4 linked regions of the Homo sapiens genome follow. The protein of the gene in region 1 interacts with the protein of each later gene in a biochemical or structural test. Each region holds a gene or a part of one and is shown on either strand. Other genes may lie near its edges. The genes, in order: UBE2V1, PELI1, TRIM25 and BIRC3.

Region 1 (7,002 bases):
GGGAAGCTCGTGGGCTGCTGAGTGAGAGGAAGGGCCTGGCAACCAAGGGCCACTATTTGATGTGCTGCAATCCTGGCCAAGGCAGGAGGAAGTCACCCGTCATAACATGGGGATTCTGAGGATCTGTGGTGGGCTTTTCACAGTTCCACCCTCTAAGACATATGTAGATATCACACATTGCAGAACCAAAGGAAGTGGGAAGGTGGTGTAGCCAAATGCTGAAAGCAGTGACCATAAAAAACTAAGTTCAGCCCTTACAGGAACTCAAAGGCTTCACAGCTGTTTCCTGGCAACCGGAGGCACAGATTAATCAAGAGCCTCACTCTAAACCTGACTAAGGAAGGCCTCTGGGCCCTGACCACACCTGGAAGACTTCTCAGGGTTAGAAAGCAGAGAGGCCTGTACACTCATTTTAGTTTACCCCAAGTAAGGTCTGCTTTACTCTTAGCACCCTGCACTCTTTTCACTGCCTAGGGACGAAGGTCAGATCTTATCATACTCCTCTTTTTAAGACTCTTATTCATTCATTCAACAAATATTTACTGAATGCCTACTTCATACCAGACACTTGTTTGATGGCTTCCCCTCATACCATCTCAAATCCAAAGCCATGTCTCTCCAACTCATCTCCTTAACAAGCCTTGCTTGCACATGAAGGCCTTTTATCCTGTTATTTCAACATGCCAAGCAGAGTCCCACCACAGGGCCTTTGCACTAACAGCCCACTCTCTCTCCTGCCTGTGACACTGTAGGGTTAGCTCTTTCCATTATTTGACTCAGCTGAAATGTCACTTTCCTGACCACCTCTCCAGACACTATCACATCACACAATTTCCTCCATAGCACTTACTGCTATCTGAAATTGTCTTATTTACTCCTTAACAGCCTTCTCTCCCTGACTTGAATGGAAGCTCCCGAAGGATACAGACTATGTCCATTTTGTTTGCTATCCACGATGGGACATAATAGGCCCTCAGTAAATATCTGTTGAATAAACAGACAAAAGAATTTTGGGAAGTCCATTTTAGGGCACCTCAAAGCCTGTCCTATGTTATCTAAACCATGCCAAGTGCTCTTGTATTCCACTAGACAGCAGCTGACATTTTATCTGATCACCATAGCCATTTATGAAGCACTCACTTTTTAACTGTCAGGGTCTGGAGAAGTTAGAACCGGGCAGCTGTTAACCCAGATTGTAGGTAGCCAACCGAGTGACTGCAAGCAGGGCTGAGCTGCAACAGCACCTTATTGCTGGCTACCACCAGCACACTGGGCCCCTTCGTTTATTACGACCCGGTAGGAGTGTTATTCTGGTGAGAAGTTTTACCCAGCAGTCTGGCCTGACTCAGAATCTCTCTTCTGGGAGTGCCTGGGGCAGCGTCATGGTAAATGAATTGACTCAGCACTGTTCCAGCTGAAACCAAAATCGAGTAAAAGGATTCATGGTCTCCGCTATTCTGCAAGAAGACCCCACTGTTTTAAACTCAAAAGGCAGCAGCTTGTGGTGGGTCACTTCAGTCAGATCCCCCACATTCAATTTCTTTTATTCCCACCCCAACCATCAGGCAAGTATGGCTCCTTGAGACCGCAGAGTAGCAACATTTATAAAGAATTCCCCTCACCCTATTTCCCATGGATCACCAATTCCTTCCCAACACTGCCGCTGCTGTGGCCTTAAATATGCCAATGATTGCTGTACTCAGGCTGGTGTCCCTGCAGCCCCACAGTGGGGAACACTGTGGCCCTGTTTGCTTCCTCCATCAGAGAGGTAACCCATTTTCACCCCATCTGAGAGAACCTCCTTGGCCAACTTCACTGCCAGGCACCTGAGGGTGCAGCCTCACCCAAGAGTTCCCATTTCATCTATTCACCTCCCTACTCCCATCAGCCAGTGGGGAACTTCTGAGCTGAACCCACATATCTGTCCCAATTATTAAAGGAGTCGATGAGAGTGAGCGTCTCCACAGAAGAGACACTTCTAGGATATGCTTCCCTCACTCAATTCAAAAAGAGGAGACTTTTCTCCTTTACAGGAAACATCTCCGGAACCCGACCTTTTCCACTCCCTCATTTCAGGGGCTTCCCTCAGTTGAATCCCCACTCCCAAAGAGACATCCTCGGGGCTCCCAATTCATCTGTTCTCCCTCATCCAATATCAGAGGCTTCCACCAACTGCCCCACTCGGACCTTGTCCCCTGAAACCTAACTTGAAGCAATCCATCTGTATCCTCGAACAGGAGACTGGTAATGATGGGGTCATTTCACTATCACCGCTATTAGGTCCCTCTGGCATCTGAATCCTTTTCCCTCCTCTCACTTATCATGCGGAGACCCCCTTCATTCTCCCCAAAAGCAGCTGCTCCAAGGCTCCTCCTTTCTAGTCAACATAGCTATTTCCTCAGCTAACCCCATCTCTAAAACTAACGCCGGAGCCGTTCCCTCAACCGATAGGGGATCCTCTCAAGTCACCCCCTCAGGATCCCGTTTCTTCCATCCAGCCTGAAGGGCTTCTCTGATGTCCCCTCCAGACATCCCAAGGCCCCTCTCAGCCGCACCCCTGGCACCCAGTATGGGACTTCCATCCGCTGTGGGGCGCCTCCTCTAGGGGACCTCTAGATCGCCCCTTAAGAGTCGCCAGCCCCGGTATCCTCAGGAGTGCCTCGGAGCTCGCTCCTCGCCCACTCCGGCTCCCCCAGACAGCACAGAGGGCCCTCACGCCTCCCGGGGGAGCCTCAGGGCCTCGCCGCGCCGCCCACAGGCCCCTCAGCCCCCCGCCCGTGCTTCCGGCCACCGCCTGCTCCTCCTCCCCCGGTCAGGCCGCGCCGGTGGCTGCCGCGGAGCCCAGCAGACAGAGGCGGCGCGGGGACCCTGGCTCCGCTGCAGGAGGCTTTGAGGGTCCCCGGCCCCCGGCCCAAGCCCATGCCCCCTCGGCCGGCCGGGCCCGGCGCCCCCGCTCACCCGAGCCCGTGGTGGCTGCCATCTTGCGTCGCTCTTGCTTGAAGGCCGGCCCCTTCTTCACCCCCCCCTTACCCGTCCCCCGGCCCTGATGCGCAGGCGCGCGCGCACGCACATACGCCGCCGCTGACGCCCGCCCCGGAGACCTGCACGACCCGTGGCCTGGAAGGCTCTTTTCCTTCCCTTTTAGAGAAAGGAAATATCTGCGTGCTCGAGGGCCCAGCAACCTGCAAGTCCCCACACATCGGGTGCGAGGGAGGTTGTGATGTGCTTAGTGAGAAGGGCAGGGGTGACTAGGCTTGGGAAGGCGCGATTGTGAAAGAAAAAGAAAATATAGCTTCAAACAAAAGCGCCGAATTCGCTTGGGGCTTTTTCCTGTCTAGTTCCTATCTAGATCCTCACCACATCTCCGCAAGGTCAGAATTAATGTGAAAAATGCAGCCGAGAGAGATCAAGCGATTTATCTAAACTCAGCTGTTAAGTGGCAGAGACAGGCAGAATTTTAACCTCCAGGTTCAAATTTTTTGAATCATCACCCTCCAGGTCAGATGATCTGGCTCCTAGGATTGATGCTCCCCGGCCAGAGAAGGCTTGGAGTGGGTGCAGCTAAATGATTTAGGGGCATTAAGGTGGCAGGGAAAGCATTTGCTAACCATCTACCCAATTCATTCATTCATTCATTCATTCATTCGTTCATTCATTCATTCAACCAAACAAACAAACATTAAGCACCTACTATGTACCAGACACTGTGCTAGGCGCTGGGGATGGATAGACATCTCTGAAGAAGCAAATCCCTGCTTTCAGGGACTTACATTCTAGTCGTAGACAGCAAGTAAATAAACAGGAAACTATAATTCTGATAGGGTAGAGATAAACCAAGACAAGAGCAGCAGAGGATGGTCAGGAAGGGCCTCCTAAGGTGGTCATATTTCAGCAGAGACCGTAACAATGAGGAGGTAGAGGGAACAGCTTGTGCAAAGGCCCTTGGGAAATATTTTTGCAAATAAATAAACCCAAGAAGGTACTCCTCCTTTATTATAAATTGTCTGAGAAGCCCTTATATGGATGTAGACACTGAGGCTGAGAGAGGTGAAGGGACTGGCTTAAGGTCACAGAGCAAAATACTGGCAGAAGGACCAGGACTCTAAACATAGAGGGACAAGGAAGCTGGAAGCCCTCACCCAGCACATCCAATTCATCACCTTTGTCTGATAGCAGTGCCTACTCTGCATCTCTCCACTCCGTTCACTTCTCCACTCAGGGCAAGCTGCCTTTATCTCCCACTTGGAAGACCCCAGCAGCTTCCATTCTCTCCCCTATGGCCCATTCTCCATATAGACCAACATCTGCTCAAAACACCCTCCAGCTAAAGCCTTCAGTGGCTCCCCATTCCCTCTGGATAAAATACAAACTTTACAAGTTGAGCGACCATAGAATTATCACCTAATGAGGACACACATCAGATTAAAAGGGGACTTATTATAATCTCACCAGGACAAGTGGAAACCAGGGCTCTCCAGGGCAAAGCAGGATGCCTGGACACCCTGTGCACCAGGCTCTGCACCCAGGGCAGGGACGAGGATGGGGTGGTCAGATTTAACGGGGCTTTCACTCAGGTCCTGACTCCGCACTTGCACAGCGCTGCAGGTGAGTGACTCCTTAAAATCTGCACCCTAGGGCAGGGCATGGTGGCTCACACCTGTAATCCCAGCACTTTGGGAGGCCGAGGTGGGCAGATCACCTGAGGTCAGGAGTTCCAGACCAGCCTGGTCAACATGGTGAAACCTCGTCTCTACTAAAAATACAAAAATTAGCGGGGCGTGGTAGCACACACCTGTAATCCCAGCTACTCGGGAGGCTGAGGCAGGAAAATCGAGCGAACCCGGGAGGCAGAGGTTGCAGTGAGCTGAGATTGCACCATTGCATTCCAGCCTGGGCAACAGAGAGAGATTCAGTCTCAAAAAAAAAAAAAAAATCTGCACCCTAGGTACCCCACTTGCCTCACCATAGCCTTGGCACAGCCTGCGCCTCTGAGACTTTCTGTACCTCTGCGGCGACACTGGCCCTTTGCAAGCCCCCTGGAACACATGCCCTCTCCCACTTCAGGGGCTTTGCCTGTGCTGTTCCCACTCTTCAGTTCTCAGATCCAGCACCATCCCCTCAGGGAAGCCTTCCTCGATTCCTCCAACCACATCAAATTCAGCTATAATTAGCTCTCAAAGTGCCAGCACTGGCTACAGGTGAAGCAACTTGACTTTTCGTGTATCACGTGATACAAGTTTGCTTTGGGGAGCACAGAAAATACTTGCCCTGGACTTGGGGTCACTGTAAAGCATCAGTAGCAAGTGGAAGCATTTGGGTTCCTAAGGTGGACTCACCTTTGCAGTGAAATTTTCTAGGTTCAAGTCTTCCTTCATCACTCAGTTTGCTTTGTGACTTCAGGTAAGACGCTTGAACCTCTCCTGGCATCAGTTTCCCCTTCTATGAGGATAGTAGTATCAACCTCATAGGATTGCTGTGGAGATAAAATGCTTTCCTAAAACCCCTTGGGCACAGGGAAGAGGAAGGGACACTAGAAGAGCTCATAATTACCAAGCCGTTACATCCAACTTTTAATCCTCACAACTCGATGCAGCAACTCCTGTGAATATCCCCATTTTTAGAGATGAGAAAACTGAGACTCAGAGCTAACAGGTGGAGAGGATGAGGATTAAAACACAAGCCTTTTATCTATGGTGCCCGTAAATGTTTACTCGCATGGATTCCTTGGCTCTTGTAGGAAACTTCTTGCAAGTAAAATTGACAATAATAATTCCCGTGCCGAGCTCATCGCAGGAAGAGGTTAGGCGGGACAGCCCGAGGCATGCTGGTTGTTGTAGTCTAGCGTTGGCGCAGTGCCTGATGGGAGTTGTAGTACGTCCCGCGCACACGCTCCCTCGAAGAGTTTCTGCCCCATTCCTGGACGTCACAGCCGGTCCCCAGAGCAGGATTCCTTCCGGCGCCTGCGCCTGATCACCGCTCTGCGCTTGAGCTGATAAACTCAGCTGATGGGATAAGAGTCTTGTTTTATCGGATTTTGGGGAAGATTAAAATGGTTAATAGAACTAGAGAATTTAGAAGAGGGCTTGGCACTAAGTGCAATATAAGTATTAGCTGCTATTATTACCTAATCCTCAATGAACCTTGCAAAGTAGCTGTTACCATTTCCATTTGTGAGATGAGAAAACTGAGACTTAGAGGAGTTAGATGGCTTTTCCAAGGTCACACAACAAGGAAGGAGTAAAATCAGTTTTGGAATCCAGTTCTCTTTACCCTGTGTCACCCGCTGGCTCTCCCGTGATGAGGGAGGTGGAGCCTGGGAGGTTTTGAGCTAAATGTGGGCAGGTTTGCCTTTTTACAAAGTGCATCGTGCTGCCATGAGGAGACAGGGCGAGGACACCCAATTGGGCAGCAGCAATATTGGTAGCAGGGAACCCAGAGAGAAGGTGTATTGGGCATGTTTACCGCCATTCCAGTCGCCATGGCCCCACATGGCAAGGTGGGTGTTTGGAAACTTTCCCTCCCCTCATAAAAGCTGAAGAGAAGGTTGGGCGCCCTGGTTCACACCTGTAATCCCAACACTTTGGGAGGCCGAGGCGGGCGGATCACCTGAGGTCAAGATTTCGAGACCACCCTGGCCACAATGGCAAAACCCCGTCTCTACTGAAAATACAAAAATTAGCCGAGCTTGGTGGCTCAGGCCTGTAATACCAGCTACCCGGGAGGCTGAGGCACGAGAATCGCTTGAACCTGGGAGGCAGAGGTTGCAGTGAGCCAAGATCGTGCCATTGCACTCCAGTCTGAGCGACAGAGCGAGACTGTCTCAAACAAAAAAGCTGAAGAAAAAGCCTATTTTTGTCCCCTTTCCTCCTTCCTACAATATGAGGTTGTAATGGTTAGAATTAGAATCCTGGGTGATGTGGCTGAGCTGCTGAAGGAATTGCAGGGCTGCCCAACTGCAGACATCTGAAGACATGAGATAATGTGCCTGTTGCTTAAGTTGTT
Region 2 (7,026 bases), on another chromosome or scaffold:
AAGGAAGATTAATGTTTAGATCCAAGAAAAACCGAACACAAAGCTTTAGGATGATTTTTCACATTTTGTTTCACTGACAAGCAGTGAAAATGAATGAGCTTAGCTTTTTTTTAAAATCAAGATGCTACTAGGCCTGTAGTCTCAGTTACTCAGGGGGCTGAGGTGGGAGGATAGCTTGAGGCCAGCCTGGGCAACATAGTGAGACTTCGTCTCTTTAATAAAATATAGATAAATATATATGTGTGTGTGTGTGTGTGTGTGTGTGTGTGTGTGTGTATCTCCAAGATATTTGGTCACAGGCTAGAATTTTAGCTTCAGAAAGTACGTTATATTTATTTGTTTACCGCTTATCTTTTGTAGATGAGGTTAACTGAAATCTTGTGAGTTAAAGATGATAGAGTTACTTGGGGGCAAAACTGAAATTAAACCAGGCATCCTGAATTCTGAAACAATGTCTTCACCATCTAATGAAGGCCCTTGAATAAGTTTTAACAGTTTGGGTTTTGTCTTTTTCATAAAGTAGAGAATTTTCCCCAGTATCATAAACTGATTATGCCCTTTCTACAGGTATTATACCTTTGGAAAATCCAAACATTTCTGCATCAAAAAGACTGTGATGTATCAGAAACTACCTTGATAAACTAGCCAGTCTTTGAGGAATTGTACTGGAAACATTCTAGGATTGTCTACCCTGTAAACTGAACAAGAACATTTATTGTTCAAGTCATCAGATATTCCAACTCCAACTCTATGCCTTGTTTGTCACTATGAAGTACATAAGGGAGACATTACAAGCTGATTACATGCCTAGGTGCTGTACTGACCCTGTAAATCTTAAGCACATTGATTGTGTTGAAGAAGGATGGAGAAAAGACTTTACACTGGTGCCTTTTCATGTAGATCTTTTTATCAGGTTAAGTAGGATTTTTGCCAGCAACCGGTAGAAAAGCATTCTAGCAAAAGAGATGGCAAAGAAGCAAAGAAGTAGTACACAGTGTGGTGAAAGATTGACGAATAAGCTGTTGTAGCTTGTATACACAAATAGCAGGAAATTCGGCTGGATTGGTAGATGGGAGGCAAATCTTGAGTCAGTTTCTAACTATTATCAGAAATAATAAACTACAAATTTTGGATAAGCTATAAGGAACCATTGAGTTTTCTCATGAGGGTAAGGGAGAGTAACAAAAGAGCTGTATTTTTAATGCTAATAATAGCAGGGGAAGAATTATTAACAATCATATTTTGGCATCTGATCACATTCATGGTGGTTTTTTTCTCTTTATAGATACTTAAGTTTCTTCCTTCTCATTGTCATTACAAATATTGCTTCAGTGTCTTAAATATTCTCTTCCAAGACCCAGTTGAAATGTCAGCTCTCTGGAACAGTCTCTTTCCAAATAAGTGCTACTTCTGTTGATTCTGAATATTAGTTCAATCCTTGGCCTATATCTTTTAGCTTTTAAAGAGCCTTTTTATTTGGGGGAATATTTTTTGTTTCAAAGATCTGAGGCCATTTAAGGTATCTTTATTTTTAAGAATAAAGAAAAGGAATATCCAATCTTATATTTGTTAACTAGTTTCCCTCTAAAACTATCCAATCTAAATAAAAAGACTTTATACTTGACAGTTGGACAAAAACACTAAAGAGGTTTATCTGAAAGTGTGCCGATATGAGGAACTTGAGGCTAAAATATGTAAAGAATGACTTTTAAGAGTCTTTATCTTTGTAGAGGGTCAGTATTTTTTCTCAGTACCCACATTCTTCAATTTTATGGTACTACTTTATAACAAATACATTCATGAACTGATAATTTCCAAATGTTTGCTTTAAAGCCCCGTGACACTTGTCACTTTTGTCATCTCCCCATTGATTTCCTTTTTTCTTTCAACTTTCAAAATGAAATTAACTTATTTACTAGCTAGTACCTCTGAAGATATTTTTAAATCTCTGACACCTCACTCATCCAGAACTCTTATCTGGGAACCTTGTCTCTCTGAAATATCCCTAAGAACCAGGAAGAGTATATATATAAAATAAATGCCACAAAGTTGATGTAGTGAAATTCCTTTTCTATTCTCCCTAGAGGATCCCTTAGGCTCTCACCAGAACCTTTTGAAATACTTTTCTCTGAAATAGGTTATTTGATTTCTCAACCCATAACAGAGTAAGAGTAGCCAGTTAAAAGAGGGGCTTGTTGCTGGAAACAAGCATGACCAAAAACAAGGAGTGATAGCTGACAACCTGACAGAAAAGAAACAAGAAAATATATGAAGTATACATAAGACCTCAAAGCAAGGCTGTGTAAGCCCTTGACATAAGGACCAGCAGCCTTGTATACCTCTTGTAGCACCTGAAGACATCACTGCATTTCAGCTTAACGTAAGTGGTATTTATAGTGTAATGTTCTGCAGTCATCCTAAAAGATTTACTTATATATGTTCACTATATTCTGTTAAATAAGGTAGAATATCTCTTTAAATATCTCTAAAGAGAAAAAAACTACATGATACACATATTTCCATCCAAAAGGGTTAAAATTAAAATCTGCAGCCATCTAGAAATCTCAGCCGTTCCTGAATTCTTCATTCCCTAAGGGTTTCGTATATTATTGTAAGTTCTCATTTAATTCCATGCTCTAAGTGATTACTTCATCAGAGACAGTCTGACTGATTAGTTTTCAAGAGTATAGATGCCCCCAGCGTTAAGTATGGTAAACTTCAACTTTAGAAATTTCAGAGACCTAATGTTCTCTCCTTATTGTGCCCTTCTTGAATGGATTTTCCACTGTGCTCTTTGAATGGGTTTATAGGTATTTTTTTTTTTCCCTCAGATTGGCCGGTCGACTGAAAGCCCCATTGATTTTGTAGTAACTGACACGGTTCCTGGAAGTCAAAGTAATTCTGATACACAGTCAGTACAAAGCACTATATCAAGATTTGCCTGCAGAATCATATGTGAACGGAATCCTCCCTTTACAGCACGGATTTATGCTGCAGGATTTGACTCATCAAAAAACATCTTTCTTGGGGTAAAAAGCTTTTTTTCTAAATGATGCTTTCTTTTATACTAGCTTTCATTCCAAGTTACAAGTTACAAGTTGGAAGCTCACTGCTATTATTTCTACTAGGAGAAGGCTGCCAAATGGAAGACATCAGATGGACAGATGGATGGCTTGACCACTAATGGTGTTCTTGTGATGCATCCACGCAATGGGTTCACAGAAGACTCCAAGCCTGGAATATGGAGAGAAATATCGGTGTGTGGAAATGTATTTAGCCTACGTGAAACCAGATCGGCTCAGCAGAGAGGAAAAATGGTAAATACTGAATGGTATTTTCTTAATTAGCTACAATAAACACATAGGATGAGTAGAACTGAATGCATTACATACATTCCAGAAAACTCTTAAATCTATTGCCAACACAGAATACTAAGTCTATCAAACACTGACTACCAAATTCTATACTAGAGGACAGTCTCTTTAATATTTCGTTTAGTAGCCGGGCGCGGTGGCTCACACCTGTAATCCCAGCACTTTGGAAGGCCGAGGCAGATGGATCACCTGAGATCAGGAGTTCGAGACCAGCCTGAGCCACATGGAGAAACCCTGTCTCTACTAAAAATACAAAATAAGCCAGGCATGGTGGCGCATGCCTGTAATCCCAGCTACTCGGGAGGCTGAGGCAGGAGAATAGCTTGAACCTGGCAGGCAGAGGTTGCGGTGAGCCAAGATTGCGCCATTGCACTCCAGCCTGGGCAACAAGAGCATTTTAGTAAACTCTGGAAGTTCATTCTTCTGTCATATCATGTTAATATATTTTAAAACCTAAGCTTTCTTAAACTAAACAGCACTCCCTCTGATCTTTTCTGTTGCCATCTGTATATCTTAAACCATATTTACCTCATTAAAAATATTAGACTTATTGATTAGCCAGATGTTTTAATCATAAGTTGTCTTTACCATAAGGCTAAAAAGAAATATGTTAATGTTTGATATTTTATCCTTGATTTTCAAACTTAACATTTTTCATAACTACTGTCAGTTTCTTGAATATTTAGTGAAAATCCTAGGAAACCTCATTTCTTGAGTAAGGAGTACTTAAAACCAAAACACTTATGTAAAAATCCAAAACAGAGTGGTGAATATGTTTTTCAACTCTTGTCTCCTCTAGGTGGAAATTGAAACCAATCAGTTACAAGATGGCTCGTTAATTGACCTCTGTGGTGCAACATTGTTATGGCGTACTGCAGAAGGCCTTTCCCACACTCCTACCGTGAAGCATTTAGAAGCTTTAAGACAGGAAATCAATGCAGCACGACCTCAGTGCCCTGTAGGGTTCAACACACTAGCATTTCCTAGTATGAAGAGGAAAGACGTTGTAGATGAAAAACAACCATGGGTATATCTAAACTGCGGCCATGTACATGGCTATCATAACTGGGGAAACAAAGAAGAACGTGATGGAAAAGATCGTGAATGTCCTATGTGTAGGTCTGTTGGTCCCTATGTTCCTCTGTGGCTTGGATGTGAAGCTGGATTTTATGTGGACGCCGGCCCTCCAACCCATGCGTTTAGCCCGTGTGGGCATGTGTGTTCAGAAAAGACAACTGCCTATTGGTCCCAGATCCCACTTCCTCATGGTACTCATACTTTTCATGCAGCCTGTCCCTTTTGTGCACATCAGTTGGCTGGTGAACAAGGCTACATCAGACTTATTTTTCAAGGACCTCTAGACTAACAGACCATTGTCTTGCAGGACTACATTATAAATTTATAAGCTAAGTGAGTTGGGTTTTCGAACCTGTTGTCCACGTCACAGTTTTTCTGCTCTGGTCATTTGCATTAAGATGAAGAATTTTTTAAAACATTTATAATAAATAGTAGCAATTTCTGAGCAAAAATCTGGGAAACTCAAGCAAAGGAATTTCTGAAAGTATCAGTCTTCTGAATTCTGAGTTTTGAAAATATATTTTGAGGAGAAAAAGACATAGTCTAATTTGATGCCTTCCTTTTAGTGTTTTTGAATCACCTATCCTCAGTGCTGAAATTGTTTTGTATAACTGAGGGTACTGTTGGTTCAAACTATGTTAGTTTACAGTTTGTTGCAAACATTGTAAAATACAGCGACATGTATATTAACTTTTTTCTATTTATCTTTATTATAGAAAATACCTTAGAATGTTCTTGATAGAGTAGCATGGTAACGATGGTGTCACACCCTTGGTGTGAATGGTAGCTTAGTGAGCAACCTAGCTCAAGGATTTGCAAAGTTAGGAAGAAGGACGAGAGAGCCTCTCTCCCCACCCCAATCTAAATATGGAATTTGGTAAATTAGAATACTTTGTAATTTGTAAGACCAAATTCATACTAATTACCCGCGTGAAAGGTGTTTGTTTTTAACAACATTGAAGATAATCAGGAAAGATTTTTTCTTAATGTTTCTCTCGAGCGTAGTACTATAACAAAAACTTAATGCTAAGAAACATTTTATATGCTCCTTTGGATATGCAATTTAATCTAGATTATCTATTTTTCTCCCATGATAACTAATCTGTTTTTAGTATCAGCAGCATTTGGCAAGTTTATTTTTTGGATATAAACTGTGGTTCATCTGTTCACTGTTTCTAGAAAAAAATCATTGCCATAAGAAAAAGTATAAATTAGCAAGAAAGGAGAGTGACTTGATTTGCTTTTGGAAAAAGAAATGCTTAATTAATTATTCTGTATTTGGCCTTATTCGGGCATTAGGAAATCTAGAGATCTAAAGGGTTGAATGACAATAGTGCCCCCGTTTTTAGCAGACCAGCCTTAACTCTGGGTTTGAATCCTAAGGAGATTGCCACAGTGAGACTTAAGGAAATGTTTGGTTGGCAGATGAGCACCAATGACTGCAGCGTGGAGTGACGCACTGCATGGTCTGTTTATTCTCTAATTCCAATATGTCTTTTGCTTCCAGAAGCAAGAAAAGTTTCTTCTCTCCCCTCCTTCCCACCCTTTTTTCAAAGGCACCACAAGTATAGACAGTTGCACTACATCAAATCTTTTTTTGACACTTGTAGAAACCAGTACACTTTTAGATTAGACAGTATCTTCTTTTAATATTTTGATTTGTTTTCCTTTAGTTTGAAAAGTTGTATAATACTTAACTGACTGTAGCAAAGTTTTATATGTGGTAGCATACCTTTAATTTATCCTATTACAAAACTGTTCTGAATTTTCTTTTGGTTTTTAAAAAACAAAACTTGTTGCTTAGAAGCCATGAATTATTTTATTTTACTTCAACTGTCGAAACTTCCTTGTTTTAAAAAATGATCATTTGGGTTCACTCAGGAAATGCATGTCAGGAAACTTGTATTATAAGTTTATTAGTTGTGATGTATCAGTAACTGCTGTTACCCCTTTTTCAAAGAAATGTAATTGATTTTGAAGTTTTCTAGATTGTCACATGCTTTGTGACTAATGCAAGAAAGCAAGTCCTGTGTTGTATTTGTTCTAGTCATTTTTATTCAGGCTATATATTGTAGCTTAATTTTTATTTGCAATTAATTTATTTAAACTAAGTAAATACTTTTCAAAATACATAATTGAATTCGTCTCTGTGAGTTCATTTTTGCATAATCGAGAATGAGAAACCAGAAGTGAAAACTGTGAACAACTCTATTCCACACTCCAAAAATACTCATTTGAAATAGATGAAGAGTTTGCATTTAATGTAACACTTTAAAGTATCTGGTTCTTTTTTAAAAGCATCTCTTACTAATAAAGGAACTTTGTTAGTGGTTGAATAATTGAGGCCTTTTCTAAGTTAAGCCTTGCTAGGGAGTTGGCACCTGTAAGTTGCATGTTAGACTATTTAAATAGTGGCTTCGTAACCATAAAAGTTGCACGTCCTTCCCAAAGTTGCCTGCATTTTCTTCTAACAGGTAAAAACAATCTCTTCTAACAGGGAAAAACCTGGCTCATTTTCTATCAAATTCAAGTTTTAAAAATTCAGGCAATTTAAATGATCAGTTGGGTGTTTGCT
Region 3 (7,026 bases), on another chromosome or scaffold:
CCCTAGAGTTCCAGCACGAGGCCTGAGATGCATTACATTCTCAAATATCCATATGAAAAGGTCTGGGGTCTCTAGTTCCCCAATGGTGACTTCTTTTCATATTATAGGAAGCCTGACAGGAGCTCTCCTCTAAGCAAAGCCCAGAGTTGGACTCATTTCACTATAAGAGGCTAAATTCCTCATACTCACATCCTGACAACATTAGGCTATAAGGAGCTTGGGGAAAATCCAGCCATCCATTCACTCCCGCCCCTTAGTGGACTGGGTTATTTTCACCACACAGAAACACTGCAGGGAAAATAGCCACTTGTGTGACCCTCTTTAGCTCTTTCCCTCCCTCCCTGATCAATGTGAGCTTATATAATTGGCTTAAATGAGGAAGTCAGTAGAAGGGGCTAGGGCCAGCCCCAGGCTCTGACTCACGCAAGGGCCAGTGCTGGGTCTGCAGCCTGTGGCCAGGGATGAACAGGAATGTTCCTGTTCCCCATGAGGTTTGCTAAAAGACCCCTTTGGTGGTAGGTTGACACCCCAGCAAGTGGCCTAGCATGGTCCGAGGCAGCCGCATAGCCTGTCTGCATGATAGCAGGCTTCAGGGATCCAGCTTAGCTGGAGGCTTGACTGTGCTAGCCTCGGTGGTACCTGCACTGTCATTCCATATGTCACAATCCAGGGAAGAGAGGCTATCACCGAGAAGAGTTGTCAGTAAGAAGGCAGGACACTCTAACACGAGCAAACCCACCAGGCTTCTGTTGATCCAGGGCAGCATCCCCCTCGCCTGGCAGAGTTCCTTGCCCCACAGCCAAGGCTATGGGAAGCAAGGCCTCCAGCAAAGCTCATGGCTGCCACCAAAGCATCTCTGCCAAGATGCTTCTTATGATACTTAGGAAGGATTTCCACCCAAACTGGATCAGGGTCACCATGACCCTGAATCACAAATCCAACACAGGCTGATTCCAATCATGGTTTGAAGCTTTAGCTGAAAAGTTTGCTGTTTGAAAACCATCAATGTGGGGGCGATGGGTGTGCAGGGTAGGAAGGGAACGCACTATTTTCCAGTGGAGGAAGAGGGTATGCCTCTTTAGGAAACTGTTCTGGGTAGAGACTGCTGTGGGTGTTTCCTCAAGCACAGATAATAACCAGGAGATCAAGCCCCAACATGCGGGTAATGGAGTTTATGTAACATTGAAACTCAATGACTTTGGAACTTTAAAAACATCTATAGTAAGAATTCAAAACACCAAGATCTGAAGGCTACCCCAGAGAGCAAAGGGGCAGCCTTCAGATCCAAGTGGCCCAAGACAGAACCTACAGTAGCTATGGATTTTCTCTAAGAGGAATCGGGCACTCATGACTTCACTTCCCAGAGCTCTGCCCAGCTGCCCAGCAGCCTGGAGATTTCCAGAACAATGGGGAGTAGGTCACCCTGCCCTGATAGGCACCAGGGGGTGGAAACGCCTCCTCGCCCACAACACAATCACTCTCACCCCTTTCCTGGCTAAATCCCACCTCCCACCCTCCCGCCAGCTCCCCTCCCATGCTCCCAATCCTTGGGACCTCTTGGGGAATTATCCAAGGAGAGTTCTGCCTGCTGTATTTTCACTAGGGTCTTGGGACTTCTGCAGGCAGTCAGCCCAAGTGCCTACAGCCTGCCTACTTGGGGGAGCAGATGGAGAGTGTGGCACCAGCAGAAAATACCCAGAAAGCCGGGTACAAAGCCTCAGTAAAGTCCACCCTGAACTTATACATCAGGTGGACCTTGTCGGCAACAGCGAAGAAGATGACAAAGCCGTGGTCACAGTTGAGAAGCACGCCCACCCGCGTGGCCTTGGTGGAGGGCAGGGTTTTCTCCACGTTATTGTGCCAGGCAGAGATCTTGGTGTTGAACCACTCCACGCACCAGGAGGCGCTGTTGCGGCCGAGCCTGCTTTCTGGGCCCTGCCGGTTCATGCTTCCGTAGCAGATGCCTACCCCACAGAAGTTGTTCTTCTGCAGCTCCACCTCCCAGTAGTGGATCCCCTTCTTGTAGCAGTGCAGGCCCAGCACCTGAGAGCAGTATGTGAACCTCTGGGGATGCGGCCGGTAGTTCTGAGGCATCTCAGCCACAGAAGCTACTGTATAGCACTCTGACAGAGCCACTTTGTTGTGGGCGGTGTTGTAGTCCAGGATGACTTTAATGTAATCTGAGAAAACATCACCCCAAGGAATTAATTACAAGGGGCCCAAAGTGCTCTTTTAGACCTTTGCCAAAGTGGTACTATTTATTCACTAGTTTTATCCATCCATGCACCCATCTACCCATTGGTCCATCCATCCACTCATCTATCCATCTGTCTGTCTATTCATCCATCTATCTGTCTATCCATGTATCCATCAATCCATCCATGTATCCATCCATCCATCTATCCATCTACCCATGTATCCATATACCCATCTATCTACCTATCTATCCATTCTTCCATTCATCCATCTATCCACTTATCTATCCATCCTTCTGCCTTTCCATTTATCCATTCATTCATTCATTAATCTATCCACTTATCTATCCATCTGTCCATTTATCCATCCACCCATCTATCCACCCATCCATTATTCATCAGCTCATCTATCCATCCATTCATCCATCCATTCTGTCCAGCCAGCCAGCCATCTATCATCTATCAGTCATCCGTATGTCTGTCCATTCATCCATCCAAAACCATTTACCAGGCACCTGACTGACACCAGATTCTGGCACAAGATGCACAACCATGAACCAGAGAGACAAGGTGCCGGGCCTCATGGAGTTCACACTCCAACAAGCAAGGCAAGTCCATCAGTAACAACACCATGAGACTCACACTCTGCCAAAAGGGTAAGCACACACTGTAGGGACACAGAGACAAGGCAACTGATGCTACAGTTGGGGAACATTTCACTGGCAGGCTGGAATTGGAGCCAAGTAACAGAAGATGAGAACTAGACAGAGGAGAACAGAGAGAGAAAAGCTGTTCCAGACAGAGGGAACAGTGAGAGTGAAGCCACGGAGTGCCAAGGGGATTCGCATGTGCTGGGATCGGGGAAGCTGGGTGGCTGGGAACACAGATGCAGCAGGAGAAGGGAAACATGTTGGGGCTAGAAAGGGAAGGGCTTAGGAGGCTAGACTTTAACTGGTGGGCAGCAGGGAGCCAAGCGAGGCACTCATTTGCTAGGTGGCTCAGGGCATGACACTTTTCACTGGAGCCCGAGTTTCCCCCAAGGCAAAATGAATAAGCTGGGGGTGGAAAAGGCCCTAAGTTGATAGAATTTTACTTTCCCTGTTTATGCGGCTGCCACAGAGTGCACAGCAGCTCCTGAAAGACGTGGCTCAGCACCGCCGCTAGCAGCTTGGGCAAGAGTTAGCTGCAGCCCAGGGCTGGTCTGGGCCTCTCTTGGGGGGCAGGGACAGCGGAGGGCTACAAGAAGGCCAGCCCTGAAAAAGCAAGGGACCCACAGATCCCCACCAAGCCTGCTGCAGCTGCTTATGATAAAGGAAGGGCTATATTTTTCAGTGATTGGCTTTGGCCTCCACATGGAAGTGGGTACCACTGGCAGGTGCTGCCTGGAGTGTTGCACGTGGGTGCAGAAGAAACAAGAAGACGGAAAGTGGGAGGGCCCTAGGCCTGGCCTTGACAACGGAACTCCACCCACTTCCAGGTTGGACGAGCTTGCAAAGGAGGGGTGGATGGAAACCCAGGGGGGTATAGCAGCTCAAGCGGCAAGGGGAGAGAGTGTCAGAAGGAGGAGGAATGCCACTGACAGGTGAAGCTAAATAAAAGCTGAAAGGCGTCCCTGGATTTTGTGACACGGAGTACCCTGATGACCTCAGAGCTGCCTGGGTCAAGGGCAGGACAGAGGTCAGAATGCAGTGGCACGAGGATTAGACTTCAGGCTCCCACCTCGGCCCCACATTGCAACCCTGGGCAGCCAAACACCAACATTCTGAATGAACCAGTCTGGGGGACAGCCTGGGCATCGGGGATTTTAAAAAGCTCCCCAGGATTCCAACACGCAGCCACAGTTGAGAGCCACCAATGTAGAAAATCTGCAGAGCTGCTTTTCCCCAACTGTCCTCAAAAGGATCATGGAGGAAATGAGCTAAACATACAGCTTTCCGTGCTTGCCTGAGTCTGATCTTGTAGGGCTAGAACAGGGCCCAGGAATTTGGTTTTTGGGGTTTTTTGTTTGTTTGTTTGTTTTTTAAGACAGAGTCTCGCTCTGTTGCCCAGACTGGAGTGCAGTGGCACAATCTCGGCTCACTGCAACCTCCACCTCCCAAGTTCAAGTGATTCTCGTGCCTCAGCCTCCCAAGTAGCTGGGATTATAGGCATGTGCCACCACGCCCGGCTAATTTTTTGTATTTTTAGTAGAGATGGGGTTTTGCCATGTTGGCCAGGCTGGTCTTGAACTCCTGACCTCAGGTGATCCACCTGCCTCGGGCTCCCAAAGTGCTGGGATTACAGGCATGAGCCACCGCACCCAGCTAGTAATTTGTATTTTTAACAAGCATTCGGGTGAAAGGGAGGCAGGAAACAGAGCTGCAGCTGAGACAGTTTTGCTAGGTTTGTTTTTGTGATTTGGAGAGATGTAAACGTGCTACAGATAGGCAAGCCTAGGTAGAGATGCTGAGGGTGAAGAGATGGGAATGGAAAGGCCTAAGAGAGAGCAGAAGATTCCAGAGAGCGTGTGGGGAGCAGACTCCAGAGCCCAGGGCCAGGGGGTCTTGGGAAAGGGGCCAGGAGGCGAGGAAGGGGGCACAGTAGATGCAGATGCGATGTCAATAACAGAGCAGGGGGAGCCCCTTCTACAGTGTCTGTCTTTTTCGTGAAGCAGAAGGTGGGCGGGACAGGGAGAAGGATGGAGCTATGGCCAGTGGGAAGTCTTGGGAATGGTGGCTCTGGAGAGTGGTGGGGAGGAGACAGGAGATGCAGGGCAGGCATGCCGGCAACGGGACGCCCGGTGAAGGCCGGTGACCGCAATCGCCCTGCCTTCTCTGCAGAGGACATGCAGGCGCCGACCCACAGAGAAAGGTGAGCTCAATTGGGCCAGACTAGACGGCAAGAGGGAGAGTCAAAGGACCGATTGTGAAATCTGAGCTAGTTAGGAAAAGTAAAGAAAGGCACTGATGACTGGGAGAAAATAAGGGAGCAACAAAGTAGAGGACAAGTGAAGGGGAGTGGCTGATATAGCCGGCCAGCTGGCCTCACAGAGAGCTGCACAGAGCGGCGCAGGAGAGACAGAACCAGTGGAACCGCGCACCAGCCCCGAAGCTACTCACACTCCAGGAGCTCAGGTCTGGACTTGGCCAGGAAGGTCTCCAGCACCTTGGCCTTGAGAGATGTTGAGTTCGGATGTGAGCTGGTGGCTTTGGCTGCAGCTGGGAGAGGAAACAGAGAGTGATTTGCAGAACAAACTCAGAGTGGACACCCCAAAGCTCCTTGCCCATGATAACTTACCCTCCAAGCCAGCTTGTTTTAAATCCACTAACTGTTCCGGGGCTCCAAACGTGGGAAGCTTGCTGGGTAAGGCAGGGACAGGGGCTGGGGGTAAGGAAAGGGAAATATGATACAGAGCAACGGGATGGCCTCTACTCCCTTCCACACTGATTAAGAGCCACTTCTACAAACACACGCCTGAACAGCAGGACAACACAGGGGAAAACAGACAAGGCTAAAGTCACCTTATTCATCTCACTTATGCTTGTCCTCCCCTCCAGCCTCAGGCCTGCTGCCATTACAGAATGGAATCATATAGAACCCATCACAGAACCCTGATGAGAGAGGTCGACTCTCACTACCAGCATTTAGTTCTGTGCTCGGGCAGTCTCAAGAAACGAACAGTTGCAGAAATGCATAACTTACGAGGTTTCTTGGATTTCTTTTCCTCTTCTGCAAAAGAAAGTTTTCAGATTTAATTTCTTTTAAGGCACAACACAATGACATTTTCAAAATAATAACATTCATGTGCATGAATTTGACCCAGACAAATAAAAGGATGTTTTAATTTGAAAAACAGAAGGAGTCAGCAGGCAAAATGAATCTATAGTGATAGAAACCAGCATGAGCGGTCGTGGGGGCGGGGACTGACTAATAAGGAGCATGAAGGAATTTTCTGGAGAAAGGGAAATTCTTTATCTTGATTTGAACAATGGTAACACATGTATGCATTTGTCAAAATAGATCTAACTGCACATTTAAGATTTACTGCAGGGAAAAAAGAGATTTACTGCAGGTAAATTATATTTCCATAAAGGAAAAAACACAAAAACCAAATAGGGAATCAGAAAAAAAAAAATGCTTGCCAAGGGCTGGGCGCATGGTGGCTCATGCCTGGAATCCCAGCAATTTGGGAGGCCAAGGTGCAGGAACCACTTGATCTCAAGCGTTAGAAACTAGCATGGGCAACATGGGGAAACCCCATCTCTACAAAATTACAAAAAAAAAAAAAAAGAAAAAACTAGCCAGGCCTAGTGGCACACACCTGTAGTCCCAGCTACTTGGGAGGTGAGGCAGAAGAATTGCTTGAGCCCAGGAGGATGAGGCTGCAGTGAGCTGTGTTCTTGCCACTGCACTCCAGCCTCAGCAACAAAATGAGACCCTGTCTCAAAAAAAAAAAAAAATGCTTGCCAAGTCTTTTAAAAATATCTGGAGTGTCTACCTACAGGAACTGAGTTTGGCTAAAATAGTCGTTCTCAAAGTCTGGTGCCCAAGCCAGCTGCAGTGACATCACCAGAGAACCCCTAAGAAATGCAAATTATTGGTCAGGCACTGTAGCTTACTCCTGTAATCCCAGCAATTTGGGAGGCTGAGGTAGGAGGATTGCTTGAGGCCAGGAGTTCAAGATCAGCCTGGACAACATATCAATATCCTGTCTCTACAAAAAAAAAAAAATTGTTTTAATTAGCCTGGCTTAGTGGCACATGCCTACAGTCCTAACTCCTCAAGAGGCTAAGGTAGGAGGATCACTTGAGCCCAGGAGTTCGAGGCTGCAATGAGTTCTGTTCGCACCACT
Region 4 (7,026 bases), on another chromosome or scaffold:
TCTCAAACACCTGGGCTCAAGCAATCCATCTACCTCAGCCTCCCAAAGTGCTGGGATTACAGGAGTGAGCCATGGCATGAGGCCTTGTGGGGTGTCTCTTTTAAATGAAAGCATACTCTGTTTACGTATTTGATATGAAGGAATATCCTTCCTTTCCACAAAGACAAAAATTATCCTATTTTTCTCAAAACATATGTCCTTTTTCTCTACTTTTCATTTTTGTTACTTTTGATGGACACATGTGTTACATTGATTTCACTTTCTCATAATTCTGCTGTAAGAAAAACAATAGTGCCAGTTCAATGACAAATAGCAACAGTCTGTTATTGCTAGACTGTTACTGTTAGTGGAGACTACCAGAACAGTCAGTCCCAGTGTCAGGGAATCAAAGAGAACATGTTCCCTCTCTAAAGGGCACAGCTGCTGCTCAGCTTTAGCTGATTGCTGCCCTGCAGGACTATAGGCCCAGTGTTGCTAGATCTTTTGATGTTTCAAGAGAAGCTTGGAATCTAGAATGTGATGGGAAGTCTCTTACATTTAAACATGTTGGCAATTAATGGTAAGATTTAAAAATACTGTGGTCCAAGAAAAAAATGGATTTGGAAACTGGATTAAATTCAAATGAGGCATGCAGATTAATCTACAGCATGGTACAATGTGAATTTTCTGGTTTCTTTAATTGCACTGTAATTAGGTAAGATGTTAGCTTTGGGGAAGCTAAGTGCAGAGTATGCAGAAACTATTATTTTTGTAAGCTTTCTCTAAGTATAAATAAATTTCAAAATAAAAATAAAAACTTAGTAAAGAACTATAATGCAATTCTATGTAAGCCAAACATAATATGTCTTCCAGTTTGAAACCTCTGGGTTTTATTTTATTTTATTTTATTTTTGAGACAGAGTCTTGCTGTGTCACCCAGGCTGGAGTGTAGTGGCACTATTTCGGCCCACTGCAACCTCCACCTCCCAGGCTCACATGATTCTCCTGCCTCAGCCTCCGGAGTAGCTGGGATTACAGGCGCGTACCACCACACCCAGCTAATTTTTGTATTTTTAGTAGAGATGGGGTTTCACCATTTTGGCCAGGCTGGTTTTGAACTCCTGACCTCAAGTGATCCACTTGTCTTGGCCTCCCAAAATGCTGGGATTACAGGCGTGAGCCACTGCACCAGGCAGAGGCCTCTGTTTTTTATCTCTTTTTGGCCTCTACAGTGCCTAGTAAAGCACCTGATACATGGTAAACGATCAGTAATTACTAGTACTCTATTTTGGAGAAAATGATTTTTTAAAAAGTCATTGTGTTCCATCCATGAGTCGTTTGAGTTTTAAAACTGTCTTTTTGTTTGTTTTTGAACAGGTTTACAAAGGAGGAAAACGACTTCTTCTAGATTTTTTTTTCAGTTTCTTCTATAAATCAAAACATCTCAAAATGGAGACCTAAAATCCTTAAAGGGACTTAGTCTAATCTCGGGAGGTAGTTTTGTGCATGGGTAAACAAATTAAGTATTAACTGGTGTTTTACTATCCAAAGAATGCTAATTTTATAAACATGATCGAGTTATATAAGGTATACCATAATGAGTTTGATTTTGAATTTGATTTGTGGAAATAAAGGAAAAGTGATTCTAGCTGGGGCATATTGTTAAAGCATTTTTTTCAGAGTTGGCCAGGCAGTCTCCTACTGGCACATTCTCCCATTATGTAGAATAGAAATAGTACCTGTGTTTGGGAAAGATTTTAAAATGAGTGACAGTTATTTGGAACAAAGAGCTAATAATCAATCCACTGCAAATTAAAGAAACATGCAGATGAAAGTTTTGACACATTAAAATACTTCTACAGTGACAAAGAAAAATCAAGAACAAAGCTTTTTGATATGTGCAACAAATTTAGAGGAAGTAAAAAGATAAATGTGATGATTGGTCAAGAAATTATCCAGTTATTTACAAGGCCACTGATATTTTAAACGTCCAAAAGTTTGTTTAAATGGGCTGTTACCGCTGAGAATGATGAGGATGAGAATGATGGTTGAAGGTTACATTTTAGGAAATGAAGAAACTTAGAAAATTAATATAAAGACAGTGATGAATACAAAGAAGATTTTTATAACAATGTGTAAAATTTTTGGCCAGGGAAAGGAATATTGAAGTTAGATACAATTACTTACCTTTGAGGGAAATAATTGTTGGTAATGAGATGTGATGTTTCTCCTGCCACCTGGAAACAAAGCATTGAAGTCTGCAGTTGAAAAGCCCAACGTCTGTGAGATCCAGGAAACCATGCTTGCAAACCACTGGTAAAAAAAAAAAAAAAAAAAAAAAAAAGCCACAGTGACTTGCTTATTGGTCATTGCTAGTATTATCGACTCAGAACCTCTTTACTAATGGCTAGTAAATCATAATTGAGAAATTCTGAATTTTGACAAGGTCTCTGCTGTTGAAATGGTAAATTTATTATTTTTTTTGTCATGATAAATTCTGGTTCAAGGTATGCTATCCATGAAATAATTTCTGACCAAAACTAAATTGATGCAATTTGATTATCCATCTTAGCCTACAGATGGCATCTGGTAACTTTTGACTGTTTTAAAAAATAAATCCACTATCAGAGTAGATTTGATGTTGGCTTCAGAAACATTTAGAAAAACAAAAGTTCAAAAATGTTTTCAGGAGGTGATAAGTTGAATAACTCTACAATGTTAGTTCTTTGAGGGGGACAAAAAATTTAAAATCTTTGAAAGGTCTTATTTTACAGCCATATCTAAATTATCTTAAGAAAATTTTTAACAAAGGGAATGAAATATATATCATGATTCTGTTTTTCCAAAAGTAACCTGAATATAGCAATGAAGTTCAGTTTTGTTATTGGTAGTTTGGGCAGAGTCTCTTTTTGCAGCACCTGTTGTCTACCATAATTACAGAGGACATTTCCATGTTCTAGCCAAGTATACTATTAGAATAAAAAAACTTAACATTGAGTTGCTTCAACAGCATGAAACTGAGTCCAAAAGACCAAATGAACAAACACATTAATCTCTGATTATTTATTTTAAATAGAATATTTAATTGTGTAAGATCTAATAGTATCATTATACTTAAGCAATCATATTCCTGATGATCTATGGGAAATAACTATTATTTAATTAATATTGAAACCAGGTTTTAAGATGTGTTAGCCAGTCCTGTTACTAGTAAATCTCTTTATTTGGAGAGAAATTTTAGATTGTTTTGTTCTCCTTATTAGAAGGATTGTAGAAAGAAAAAAATGACTAATTGGAGAAAAATTGGGGATATATCATATTTCACTGAATTCAAAATGTCTTCAGTTGTAAATCTTACCATTATTTTACGTACCTCTAAGAAATAAAAGTGCTTCTAATTAAAATATGATGTCATTAATTATGAAATACTTCTTGATAACAGAAGTTTTAAAATAGCCATCTTAGAATCAGTGAAATATGGTAATGTATTATTTTCCTCCTTTGAGTTAGGTCTTGTGCTTTTTTTTCCTGGCCACTAAATTTCACAATTTCCAAAAAGCAAAATAAACATATTCTGAATATTTTTGCTGTGAAACACTTGACAGCAGAGCTTTCCACCATGAAAAGAAGCTTCATGAGTCACACATTACATCTTTGGGTTGATTGAATGCCACTGAAACATTCTAGTAGCCTGGAGAAGTTGACCTACCTGTGGAGATGCCTGCCATTAAATGGCATCCTGATGGCTTAATACACATCACTCTTCTGTGAAGGGTTTTAATTTTCAACACAGCTTACTCTGTAGCATCATGTTTACATTGTATGTATAAAGATTATACAAAGGTGCAATTGTGTATTTCTTCCTTAAAATGTATCAGTATAGGATTTAGAATCTCCATGTTGAAACTCTAAATGCATAGAAATAAAAATAATAAAAAATTTTTCATTTTGGCTTTTCAGCCTAGTATTAAAACTGATAAAAGCAAAGCCATGCACAAAACTACCTCCCTAGAGAAAGGCTAGTCCCTTTTCTTCCCCATTCATTTCATTATGAACATAGTAGAAAACAGCATATTCTTATCAAATTTGATGAAAAGCGCCAACACGTTTGAACTGAAATACGACTTGTCATGTGAACTGTACCGAATGTCTACGTATTCCACTTTTCCTGCTGGGGTTCCTGTCTCAGAAAGGAGTCTTGCTCGTGCTGGTTTCTATTACACTGGTGTGAATGACAAGGTCAAATGCTTCTGTTGTGGCCTGATGCTGGATAACTGGAAAAGAGGAGACAGTCCTACTGAAAAGCATAAAAAGTTGTATCCTAGCTGCAGATTCGTTCAGAGTCTAAATTCCGTTAACAACTTGGAAGCTACCTCTCAGCCTACTTTTCCTTCTTCAGTAACAAATTCCACACACTCATTACTTCCGGGTACAGAAAACAGTGGATATTTCCGTGGCTCTTATTCAAACTCTCCATCAAATCCTGTAAACTCCAGAGCAAATCAAGATTTTTCTGCCTTGATGAGAAGTTCCTACCACTGTGCAATGAATAACGAAAATGCCAGATTACTTACTTTTCAGACATGGCCATTGACTTTTCTGTCGCCAACAGATCTGGCAAAAGCAGGCTTTTACTACATAGGACCTGGAGACAGAGTGGCTTGCTTTGCCTGTGGTGGAAAATTGAGCAATTGGGAACCGAAGGATAATGCTATGTCAGAACACCTGAGACATTTTCCCAAATGCCCATTTATAGAAAATCAGCTTCAAGACACTTCAAGATACACAGTTTCTAATCTGAGCATGCAGACACATGCAGCCCGCTTTAAAACATTCTTTAACTGGCCCTCTAGTGTTCTAGTTAATCCTGAGCAGCTTGCAAGTGCGGGTTTTTATTATGTGGGTAAGAAACTGAATCTGCTAATTAAAAAAAATATATTTCATTTTATACATTTTAGTGGGCAAATTATGTGTATTCATAAGTTTTGGTCTAAAATTAATTTTAGGTAACAGTGATGATGTCAAATGCTTTTGCTGTGATGGTGGACTCAGGTGTTGGGAATCTGGAGATGATCCATGGGTTCAACATGCCAAGTGGTTTCCAAGGTAATTGTTTTGAAATTCTCTTTGCAAATTCTTGTGATTATCATGAGATTGCTTATATGTGTTCACCTGAAATCAGTTGTTACTTTACTCTGTTCCAAATATATATTTGTGAATAAGTTTAGGATGGATTACTTAGTAAAATACTTACTTAAAAAGTTTCGATGGACTTAAGACAACGAAGAAATAGATTTGGGGATTTTTGTTTAATTTTTAAAGAAATATATATATATTTAAATAATACATGCTCATTATAAAAACAAAGTCACACATTGTAGAAAAGCACAGAGAAGGAAAATTAAAATGTCCAGAAATCTTACCGCCTAAGGATGAGCATGGTTACCACTTTAGTGAACATCCCTCCAGACATATAGAAATAAATGTATATGATACATATACATATAGAAATAAATACATATACATATAGAAATAAATGTACACCATTTTACATAAGTTAAATATTATATCTAGTTTTGAAGTTTTTTCAGTCAACATTTGTCTTGGATATATTTCCATTCATTCGGTATTCAATAATAATTGATCACCTATTGGCAGGCATTGTTCTGGGTGCATAAAATCAGTTGAACAAAACAAAGACCCCTGGTCTCCTAAGTTTTTATTATAGCACGAGAGAACAGACAACTAATAAAAACTTGAATAAGTTCTATAGCATGTTGGAAAATAAGTACAATCAATAAAAAGAACAAAGAGGAGTTTAGAAATGCCAGGCAGGTTACAATATTAAATTGGGTGGTCAGGGTAAGTATAGACTCATCTCATCTGTTTTAGTCGCCACGCAGCATTTTAATGTGATGTGTTACCCTTTTGATTGTTTAACTGGCCACCTAGTGTTCTAGTTAATCCTGATTAGCTTGCAAGTGTGGGTTTTTATCACGTGGGTAAGAAACTTAATGTACTAACTAAAATATCAGCTTCAAAAAGTTTTTTACACTCTCCTTTTTCATCTAAATCATGTGGCCTACAATTACATTTTTTCATGGTCAAAACTTTTGCTATTATTCAACCCGTTTCCCATTTGCCCTGAGAATACTGCACTGGCAACAAGCTGCACTGTTTTTTTTCTAAATGGGAAATGGGTTAATATCGATTAATAAATGTGGCATCTTAACTTATTTTGATTACTTTTTTTCCTCTTTTCTTTTGAGATGGAGCCTGGCTCTGTTGCCCAGATTGGAGTGCGATGGTGTGATGTCAGCTCACTGCAACCTCCGCCTCTTGGGTTCAGGCAATTCTCATGCCTCGAGCCTCGCTAGTAGCTGGGATTACAGGTGCACGCTAGCATGCCCAGCTAATTTTTGTATTTTTGTAGAGACAGGGTTTCACCATGTTGTCCAGGCTGGTCTCAAACTCCTGACCTCAGGACTTTGAGGTGCTTGCCCGGCCAACATCAGTGTGTTTTAAGAATCTTAGAAGAGTTGAAGAGAGTAGCTAAGAGCTCTGAGGAGAGATGGTCTTACTTGACCTCAGTAGACTGAGGGGCTCCTGACCCTTGTCCACTTGAGCCTTGGTAGATAACTAGTAATCACCTTCCTCTTGCTTATATCAACCTGCCTTTCACTGCAATATCTCTGACCATTCCCTATATGCTAAATGAATAGTAAATTGATTATATGTACATTTATACTCATTTGAAATATTTATACTTCACAATATATTAAGAGTAAATTGATTATATGTATGTTTATACTCACTTGAAATAGCCAGTCTACAAATGGCTGGATTAGTCCTGCCCAAATTAAGATAAACCTTTAGAACTTTTCAAAATTAGCTGAAGTGGTCGGGTGCAGTGGCTCATGCCTGTAATCGCAGCACTTTGGGAGGCTGAGGCAGGAGGATCACTTGAGGTCAGGAGTTCGAGACCAGTATGGCAACATGGTAAAGCCCCATCTCCACTAAAAATGCAAAAATTAGCCGGCCATGGTG

Evidence for each region.
Region 2: the proteins of UBE2V1 (region 1) and PELI1 form a complex in vitro, tested with the Homo sapiens proteins (3 studies listed by BioGRID).
Region 3: the proteins of UBE2V1 (region 1) and TRIM25 form a complex in vitro, tested with the Homo sapiens proteins (one study listed by BioGRID).
Region 4: the proteins of UBE2V1 (region 1) and BIRC3 form a complex in vitro, tested with the Homo sapiens proteins (2 studies listed by BioGRID).

What each region holds. Positions count from the first base shown.
Region 1 is NC_000020.11:50,110,149-50,117,150, forward strand, and holds the start of UBE2V1 (ubiquitin-conjugating enzyme E2 variant 1), read right to left. Parts: upstream 3,003-7,002; 5' UTR 2,981-3,002; coding exon 2,959-2,980; intron 1,415-2,958; exon of another isoform or gene 1,141-1,414; intron 1-1,140. UniProt on the Homo sapiens protein: Has no ubiquitin ligase activity on its own. The UBE2V1-UBE2N heterodimer catalyzes the synthesis of non-canonical poly-ubiquitin chains that are linked through Lys-63.
Region 2 is NC_000002.12:64,092,416-64,099,441, reverse strand, and holds the end of PELI1 (E3 ubiquitin-protein ligase pellino homolog 1), read left to right. Parts: intron 1-2,164; exon of another isoform or gene 2,165-2,380; intron 2,381-2,831; coding exon 2,832-3,029; intron 3,030-3,128; coding exon 3,129-3,317; intron 3,318-4,173; coding exon 4,174-4,740; 3' UTR 4,741-6,790; downstream 6,791-7,026. UniProt on the Homo sapiens protein: E3 ubiquitin ligase catalyzing the covalent attachment of ubiquitin moieties onto substrate proteins. Involved in the TLR and IL-1 signaling pathways via interaction with the complex containing IRAK kinases and TRAF6.
Region 3 is NC_000017.11:56,890,050-56,897,075, forward strand, and holds part of TRIM25 (E3 ubiquitin/ISG15 ligase TRIM25), read right to left. Parts: intron 5,904-7,026; coding exon 5,877-5,903; intron 5,556-5,876; coding exon 5,472-5,555; intron 5,393-5,471; coding exon 5,294-5,392; intron 2,181-5,293; coding exon 1,651-2,180; 3' UTR 1-1,650.
Region 4 is NC_000011.10:102,320,481-102,327,506, forward strand, and holds part of BIRC3 (baculoviral IAP repeat-containing protein 3), read left to right. Parts: intron 1-1,356; 5' UTR 1,357-4,029; coding exon 4,030-4,882; intron 4,883-4,985; coding exon 4,986-5,085; intron 5,086-7,026. UniProt on the Homo sapiens protein: Multi-functional protein which regulates not only caspases and apoptosis, but also modulates inflammatory signaling and immunity, mitogenic kinase signaling and cell proliferation, as well as cell invasion and metastasis.